Homo sapiens: one gene and its partner. The protein of the gene in region 2 purifies or fractionates together with the protein of the main gene of each other region. This does not show direct contact. Each region holds a gene or a part of one and is shown on either strand. Other genes may lie near its edges.

Region 1 (3,270 bases), on a different chromosome or scaffold from region 2:
GACAGGTAAAGAATCTGCCCTCATCTTTGCACTTGGCTTTCTAGGCCCATCCTCTTGGAGCTGTAGTGGGGATCTGGGGACACAGGAAGAGGGAAATGGCCGAGTGCACGGTAAGTGCACCCTTTATGGCGATGAGAACCTGCCACAGAACAGAATGCTGTTGGCTCTGTTGTGCCTGATGAAGAAAAGGAAAGGGTGGTCAGCACAGAACCTGGGGCCAGATTCCATGCAGCACTCTGCAACTACAAAGCAGCTCGACGCTGCCGCTGCCTCGGTGCCTTCTTCATTCACCTCCACAAAACTCTTGTGCACGAACTTGGACAGACACAGGTCTCTCTCCGCTGACATTGCCGACAAGTCAGCCTTGCCCTGTTGGAAGGCATCAACAATTCCCAAATGCCGAAGCACAGATTCCATGTCATAATCCTCTTGTAGTTTAAATTTTGGAAGGAGAACTTCAACCTCAGTACTCTTCATACAGTCTGGCTTGGTCCAGGCTGTGAGTTTCTCAAAAGTGAGACTTTTTTCCACCTGAAAGACCAGAATTAGACTTTAAGATTCCGACTTCAGTGCACATGTACAAGCGCACAGGCACTCACAGTTCCCTTCCTCCCCTTGCACGTAGGTGTTGTTTGTTCACATAGGATCAGTGGCCCCTTCATCTGCCAGAAGCTTGTGAGCACTCTTACTTGTCCTATGTCCCATGTGCCACTTCCTTGACAAGGGGGAGAGACACCAAGCAGTCAGAGGCAGGAAGGCTGTGGCTGTCCTCTCCTTATCCAACAACTCCAGAGACATCTTGTATTGTGACAAGTGTCAATGCCCAGGCGACTGTGTTTTTTTTTCAAACATAGTCTTTTTAAAGACAACAAACCATTGCTAGTAAAGAAAAGGATTGGAAACGAAAGGGCTCTCAGTGTGAGCCACTCCAACAGGATTATCTGTCCCAGGTGAGATTCTGCATAGTTTCCGGAGCAGAGAGGTTACCAGAGGATTATCTGCCCCAGAGAGATTCTGCATAGTTTCCGGAGCATAGTTTCAGGAAGGTGGGCAGAGGGAGAGCCAATGGCTGCTGCGCACACAGACCTCTTAAGTCATGGGGTCCCACTGCCTGCCATTTGCCATGGTTGACTCTCTCACCCTGGAGATCCATGCTGAAAGGAAGCCGAGTGCCTGGATGTGCCCTCAGAGGCTGCCTCTGGTCCCACCCTCTGAGAACTGGACTTCACACCTCCCTGGATGCCCCCTCCCAGCCTTGTTAGGTCAAAGTTAAGACTTCCTCATTCTCTATTTCAGGTTCCTAGACTTTAAAAGCATAATGCTAAGAATGATGATTGTAATAATGGATCACATTTGTAGAGCATTTACTAGTTGCCAGGCAATGTGGTAAGCTTGTTACCTGAATTACCCACATTTTATCCTCATCATAACTCTAGGAGGCAATAACCCCGAGCAGTCATTTATGCTTTTAGAGTTAAAAGTCTGCCATTCATCAAACTAGCAGGATTTTTATAAGCTTCCTCCTACCTGATTTATTTTAAAAGGCATTTTAACCGCCGCCCACTCCTTCTAGCGATGAAAAAACAGAGGACTGAGATGTGTAGTTTGGCAGATCACGCAGACAATATTGGGAAAAGTCAGCCTTGAACAAAAGTTCGATCCCAACGCCAAGTGCCTGCACAGTGTGCGTCTGCCGCATCGCCAACTCAGAAGGTGAATATGAGAGGTGGAAGTGGCACTCGAGTTCTGCCCGCAAAGGTGTCCCTGGGTTCTTCCCGCAGCCCGGGTCTTACCGTGCTGAGCTCCACGCCGTCGTCAGGCAGCAGCACCAGCAGGCTCAGCTCCTTCCTGGCGTAGGGCAGCTCCAGCAGCTGCGCGCGCACCTCGCCCACGTGGGCGAGCTTAAACGTGGCCTCCTGATACATCATCTGCACTGGCCTTTGCTCCTCCTGGGGGAAGGATTATTGAAAGACGCAATTAAAACTTTCAAAAGAGCTGCAGTTGCCTCCAAGAGTGTTTTCAGCACCTGTGATGGAAACCGCCACATTCATGCCCCAGTTAACACTAAAAAAAAAAAAAAAAAAAAAAAAAAAAAAAGTCAACCAGTTCCTTCCTATCTTCATTGCAAGCAGACACAGTACCACCCTGGGAAAGGTTTTCTTCTGCAAAATAAAATGTGATACCCTACATTTTCCAGAGGAGAAAGATGTTTCTCATTTAAATTGTGCTCAGCAAATAGATCTAAGAAAGCAATATAATCAAATGAAATTAAATACAAATTTGTTTTGATTTAATTAGAAAAAAATGTGTATTGTTTTTCCTATTTATCCAACCCAACATATGAGAAAAAAAATCATAAAGTGGGATGAAACTTATAGTTCCACAACAGCATGACAGGGAGTATAAATGGATACACTCTCTCAGAAAGAGTAACGACCTACATATGTAGTAATGTATTTTAACCCAATCTTTTCAATTCTGATACTCTAATGAAATAACTTTTTTAAAATACAGAAGAGGCATAAGCACATAGAAGCTCAGCAAAGTATTACATTTATTAACGTAATACTTTAAAAAATTGATACAGATCATTTATTATAAAAATTAAAATAGTTCTAAAACCAGGGTTAGAATTCTCCTCCTCCCACCCTTTGCAACTAGAGAACTAATTTTTTTAAGTTAAAGTACACCTTACAAAAAATGCAGGAGGGTTACCTGCTTTTGTTTTTTAATTACATTAAAATAGTATCTTTTTAGGGGCTGGAAGATTTGGCAAATTATTCTAATGCCTGCCTTAATTAAGTTTTACTTCAATGTCAAAACTAAGGTCTTTGTCATGAAGTTTTAATATTAAAAAGCTGTAAATACTGAATTAATGATAATTAGTTAACAATTCAAATCAAAACTTACTTTAATTTTAAAAATAACTAATTAAAGACACATGTTTTCACCTTCTCTCCCTCTACCCTGCCCTATACTGCCTCTCACTCCCACATATCACACTACCTTAACACTTTTTTTTTTTTTTTTTTGCTTTCTAGCCAAGTAAATTGGGCTTATAGGAAGATCTTTAGTTTCCAAAACTAGGTGGCAGCAATGGTTTATGAGAAATTATCAAAGGCAGTTAAGAGCAGTGATAAAACACTACATATATATATATATATTATATATACGTATATATAATATATATATGCAGCAAATATCTTTTACTCCTTCCGTTTTTTTCTACTGAGTTAAGAAATTCATTCAGAAATACTTTAAGTTTCAAAT
Region 2 (5,365 bases):
TTAAATTATTAAGTAATATAAGGGTAATTTAAATATTTTTGTTAATTTTTAAGGTTTTATAGTCAGAATTTCTTCAGTTTCAACATAAAGATTCTAAGTTTAATTAATACTTTTCTTTCTGAATAATGCAAATGTATTTAAATATTTTAAATTCAAACGAGTATTCATGATTTGTGGCTATGTTTGTACAATGGAAGGTTTATTGTCTATTTTACTACTATAAATTTATACCAGCCAGGCGCAGTGGCTCACGCCTGTAATCCCAGCACAGCACTTTGGGAGGCCAAGGTGGGTGGATCACCTGAGGTCAGGAGTTTCAGACCAGCCTGGCCAACATGGCGAAACCCCATCTCTACTAAAAATAACAAAAATTAGCTGGGCGTGGTGGTAAGCACCTGTAATCCCAGCGACTCGGGAGGCTGTGGCGGGAGAATCACTTGAACCCAAGAGGTGGAGGTTGCAGTGAGCCAAGATCGTGCCATTGCACTCCAGCCTGGACAACAAGAGTGAAACTCTGTCTCAAATAAATAAATAAATACCATCAATATTTTTTAATTTACCCCCCTTTTCAGCATTTTAAAATTTTATTATTTTTTCTAACATGTTATCTTATTCTGGGGTTATTTCTATATGCCTTAAGTAAATCTTATAAGATTTTCTGTGCTAATAGTGTGCTGACAGTAAGTACTTTTAGTTATTATTCAAAAATGTCTCTTATTTTATGACCATCTTTCTTGTAATGGTTTTCCTGGGTATATAATACTATACTGACAGTAGAGTTTTTCTAACTCATTTTGAAGGTGTTATTCCACTATCTTATTTCTTTGTGGTTTTGATTAGTTACCGGTAAACAGAAGTTTGCTGTTAAGTCAACTCTCTCAAATAAACATAAAAATGAAAAGAATTGACTTATAGTGACTATAGGGCTTGACAATTTTCATGGTTGTATTTAGGCTAGCAATGATGAGTAGATATGTGAAAAAATATAATTTTTTAGATGAATGGTTTTATTTCGTTCAGGCTGAAATTTATAATATAATAATTTCTTTTTTTTAATTTGTTACACCATTTCCTTCCAGCTGCATTACCTCTCATTCCATTCTTCTTCAAGTTGCATAAACTATGTAGTGCCTTTACTTTTGTACTTTTCTCCAAATGCTTATAATTAAATAAAATCACATTTATTAATATATGTATTAACTTAATGAGAAGAAATATTTCTGTATGCATAATTTATTCAATGATTATTTTATTGATAACTATTGTTTCTAGTGTTTTATCCATAACAAAATGATGCTATATAGAGCCTTGAAATTAAAAATGATAAAAAAATAATTTAGAAATACTGATTCTTAATGCTGCAACTGGGAACAAGGACCCTGAGCTTAGAGAGCCTTAGAAAATGGTGATTTCTATGCCCAATTTTTTCTCCATTCTAATTAGCATTTTTGATCTCATAACAGCACAGCAAGAACCCTATTGCACTAACTAAATGACAAACCAGGAAAAAGGACTTGAACTCTAAGACTAGTGGAGGATTTCCAGTTCTGCTTCATTTCCTTCCTTTGCCCACACTTTTCTTCGTGATTTAGTCTCCTGGGAACTGGGTCTATTAGAACCACCTAAGATAATAATTTAATTTAAAGATTCTTGAGATTCTACCAAATCAAGTTCCTAGATATGAGCCCCAGGCACCGTTTGCTACAAATCCTCTATATGAACATAACCTCAACATATAACCCAAGATCTTCTTAGGAGAAAAAAACTTAACAGGCCCATAGGAAAGAAGAGAGTAATAGAGCAACCTAAAGATTCATGACATGACTCATATATTATGGTGCTACTAAGAATAAACTGAAACTTGAAATGGCAAAACTTTTATTGAACATCATGCTGAAGCCCAGAAGAAAATGCCATCTCCCACTGGTACTCCTGTAATCTGACACTTCAAGATGTCTCCTCTGCTCAAGGATCTTTAAAAGCACCTTCTTTGAACCACAGATGTCCCATACTCCTTGAAGTCTGCCGAGGTGACCCACATCTGCTTGAAACTGCTCATAGAGGTCATGATGGATGCACCAATCCATGCAGAGAAGCATCTATCAGGAGAAGCTGTGATCTTGATGGGAGTACCTTTGGAAGCCAGCTGTTCCACTTCCTTCATGAGCCTTTCCTCCAGCCCAGGGAGGAGAGTGGTGCCCCCGGAGAGTACAATGTCTGCATAAAGTTTATTCTGGATGTCAGTGTCACACTTCATGATGCTGCTGGAGACCATTTTTGAGAGTCCTGGGCTGTGGATGCCCAGCTGGTCAGGTGCAAAAAGAACCTCGGGCACTTGGTACAGCTCATCCCCAAAGTGGATGACATGTCCATCTGGCAGTCTGTATGCTCCCAGGACCTCTCCCCGGCTCTTGCGTAGCTCTTTCTCTGGCTCCAAGGCGATGTAGCACAACTTCTCTTTGATGTTATTTACCACGGCCTTGTTGAGTATGCAAGGGAAGTTAAACCCGCTAGCAAAGAGGAGCCGGGTGAGGTGCTCTGTGATGTCCCTCCCTGCCATACAGAGTTTGGTGACTGCGTGAGGCAGGGAGTAACCCTCAAAGATGGGGACAGTGCAAGTGACCCCATCTCCACTGTCCACCACCAGGCCTGTGACACAGGCAGAGGCATAGAGCGCTGCCACCGCATGATTAGACAGGTAGAAACCAGGCACACTGAAGGTCTCAAACATCATTTCTGCTAGCTTTTCTCGAATTTCCCTAGGATTCAAAGAGGGCTCGGTCATAAGTACAGGCTGTTGGCTGGGTTTTACTCCAAGCTCCCGCTCAAAGAGATGTTTCCAGAGTTTCTCCATGTCATCCCATCCTGTTACCAGTCCACGCTCAATGGGGTAGTGCAAATGTAGGGCCTCATACTTGTACAGGGCTTCTTGCCCCACGAAGTACTTCTGATTAAGTCTTGCTAAAGGCACATTGAATTTACAATGTCCCAAGACGGAGCTGATGACATGGCGGGGTCCAATCTCTCCAGACAGGCCTGCTTTGCAGAGTCCTGAACCATTGTCAAAAATTACAGCAGGAACATCTAATGCATGTGGATTAAACATGTCTGTAATATGTTCTCCTGGACTTCCCCCAAATAAAGAAAGAACACTTACGTCACTCTCTGAGATGACAGGCACCTTTAGAATTTTTTAAACTTCAGGGTTCTGAAGTTTCAAGTTGTCACCCATGTACAGCTAGTAGGCTACCTTCAGTCCACCAGGACACCCCATCCTCAACCTCTGAATCTTATCTCCATTCTGTAGGCTCAGGGCCTGCTGAGGCAACATGAGGGGTGATTGCCCTCTATGTCACAATCCAGCCAAGGCAACAATTGTCCTCAGTGAGCATCAGAGGGGCCGGGTGGGGCCTCTGAGCCAATAGTACTCCCTACTTGGTCAGATACAAAGCCAAGGAAAGCAAATCATACCTACAGAGCTATGAGAAACACTATTCTACATGCTTTTGCTTGGAATTATGTTTTCATTTTTTTAGATATATATTTGAGAATAGAATTGCTGAGTTATATGACAACTGTATGTTAAATCATTTGATTTTAATTTCTGTAAGTTCTTTGTTCCAAAGTGGCTGTGACATTTTGCATTCCCACAGTCGCTGTAGGAATGCTCCTACTTCTCCACATGCTTCTAAATTCTATTTTCTGACTTTATGATTCTAGGCATTCTAGTGTGTGTGAAATGTTATCTTATTGTGGTTTTGATTTGCAGCTTTAAGTATCAATGTTGAGAATCTTTATTATGTGCTTATTGGCCATTCTAATACCTTCTTGGGAGAAATGTCTATGCAGACCCTTTGTTCCTTTTTTATAAGGTTGTTTTTTGATTATTCCATTGTAACTGTTCTTTACACATTCAAGAGTCTGGTGTTTATCAGATACATTATGTGCATACATGTTCTTTTATTCTTGTATTGTCTTTTCACTTTTTTGTTAGTGTTCTTGAAATTACAAAACTTTTAAATTTTAAAGGAGTCCAGTTTCTCTGTTATCATTTGTTGTTCATATTTTGTGTCATATGTAAGCATTCATTATAAAATTTAAGATTCTTAAATTTATCTTTTTGTTTTCTTGTAAGAATTTTAAACTTTTAACTATTACATTTAGTTTTTGTTAATTTTGAGTTCATTTTTTATTTATGGTGTGCATTAAGTTTTCAACTTCATTCTTTTGAATATGGTTCTATCTGGCTGTTCCAGCACCATTTGCTGAAGAGGATAATTTTGCCCCATAGAATGACTAGTATCTTTTTCAAGCAACAATTGACCATAGACAGACACCTGGGTTTATTTCTGGACTCACTGCCCTATTCCATTGATCTATATGTCTATCATCATGCTGGTAGCACACTGCATTGATTTCTGTCACTCTGTAATAAATTCTGTAGTTAAGAAGTTTGAGTACTTCTTTGTTCTTCCTTTTCAAGATTGTTTTGGCCATTTTGGGTCCCTTGCAATTCAGTATGCAATTTAGGATCAACTTTCCAATTCCTACGCAAATGTCATATGGAATTTTGATAGAGATTGCCTTGAATCATTAGATCAATTTAAGGAATATTACCATCTTAATAACGTCAACTCTTCCAACCCATGAACATGTGATTTTATTTTGCCATTCACTTGCATATTATTTTAGTTTCTTCATGGAATATTGTCATTTTTGGAGTAAAACTTTTATACCAGTTTTGTCAAATTTTTATTTCCAAGTATTTTATTTTTCTTTTATAACTGGAGTTTTTTTTGTTTTGTTTTGTTTTTGTTTGTTTTTTGTTTGTTTTGTTTTGTTTTTTGTGATGGAGTTTCACTCTTGTTGCCCAGGCTGGAGTGCAATGGCTCTATCTTGGCTCACCACAACCTCCGCCTACTGGGTTCAAGCAATTCTCCTGCCTCAGCCTCCTGAGTAGCTGGGATAACAGGCATGTGCCACCACACCCAGCTAATTTTGTATTTTTAGTAGAGACGGGGTTTCCCATGTTGGTCAGGCTGGTGTTGAACTCCCGACCTCAGGTGATCCACCTGCCTAATTTTATCTTTGATTCAGAGGGGTACATGTGCTTATTTGTTACATAGGTATTACATGTATAATGGTGGGAGTTGGGATTCTAGAGTACCCATTAACCAAATATTGGACACTGTATTCAATAGGTTATATTTTATCTTTCACTCTTCTCCCACTGTCATCCCTTTGGAGTCCCCAGAATATATTTTGCCCATCATTATGTCCATGTGTATCATTTGTTTAGCTTCTACTTATAAGTGAGAGCATCTGTATTTGATATTCTGCTTCTTTGTTAGTTTACTTAGAATAA

The links.
Region 1: the proteins of ACTRT1 (region 2) and SERPINB9 purify together in Homo sapiens (affinity purification with mass spectrometry; one large-scale study listed by BioGRID and IntAct). This does not show direct contact.

What each region holds. Positions count from the first base shown.
Region 1 is NC_000006.12:2,890,040-2,893,309, forward strand, and holds part of SERPINB9 (serpin B9), read right to left. Parts: intron 1,950-3,270; coding exon 1,794-1,949; intron 532-1,793; coding exon 124-531; 3' UTR 1-123. UniProt on the Homo sapiens protein: Granzyme B inhibitor.
Region 2 is NC_000023.11:128,049,101-128,054,465, forward strand, and holds ACTRT1 (actin-related protein T1), read right to left. Parts: upstream 3,304-5,365; 5' UTR 3,107-3,303; coding exon 1,976-3,106; 3' UTR 1,862-1,975; downstream 1-1,861. UniProt on the Homo sapiens protein: Negatively regulates the Hedgehog (SHH) signaling. Binds to the promoter of the SHH signaling mediator, GLI1, and inhibits its expression.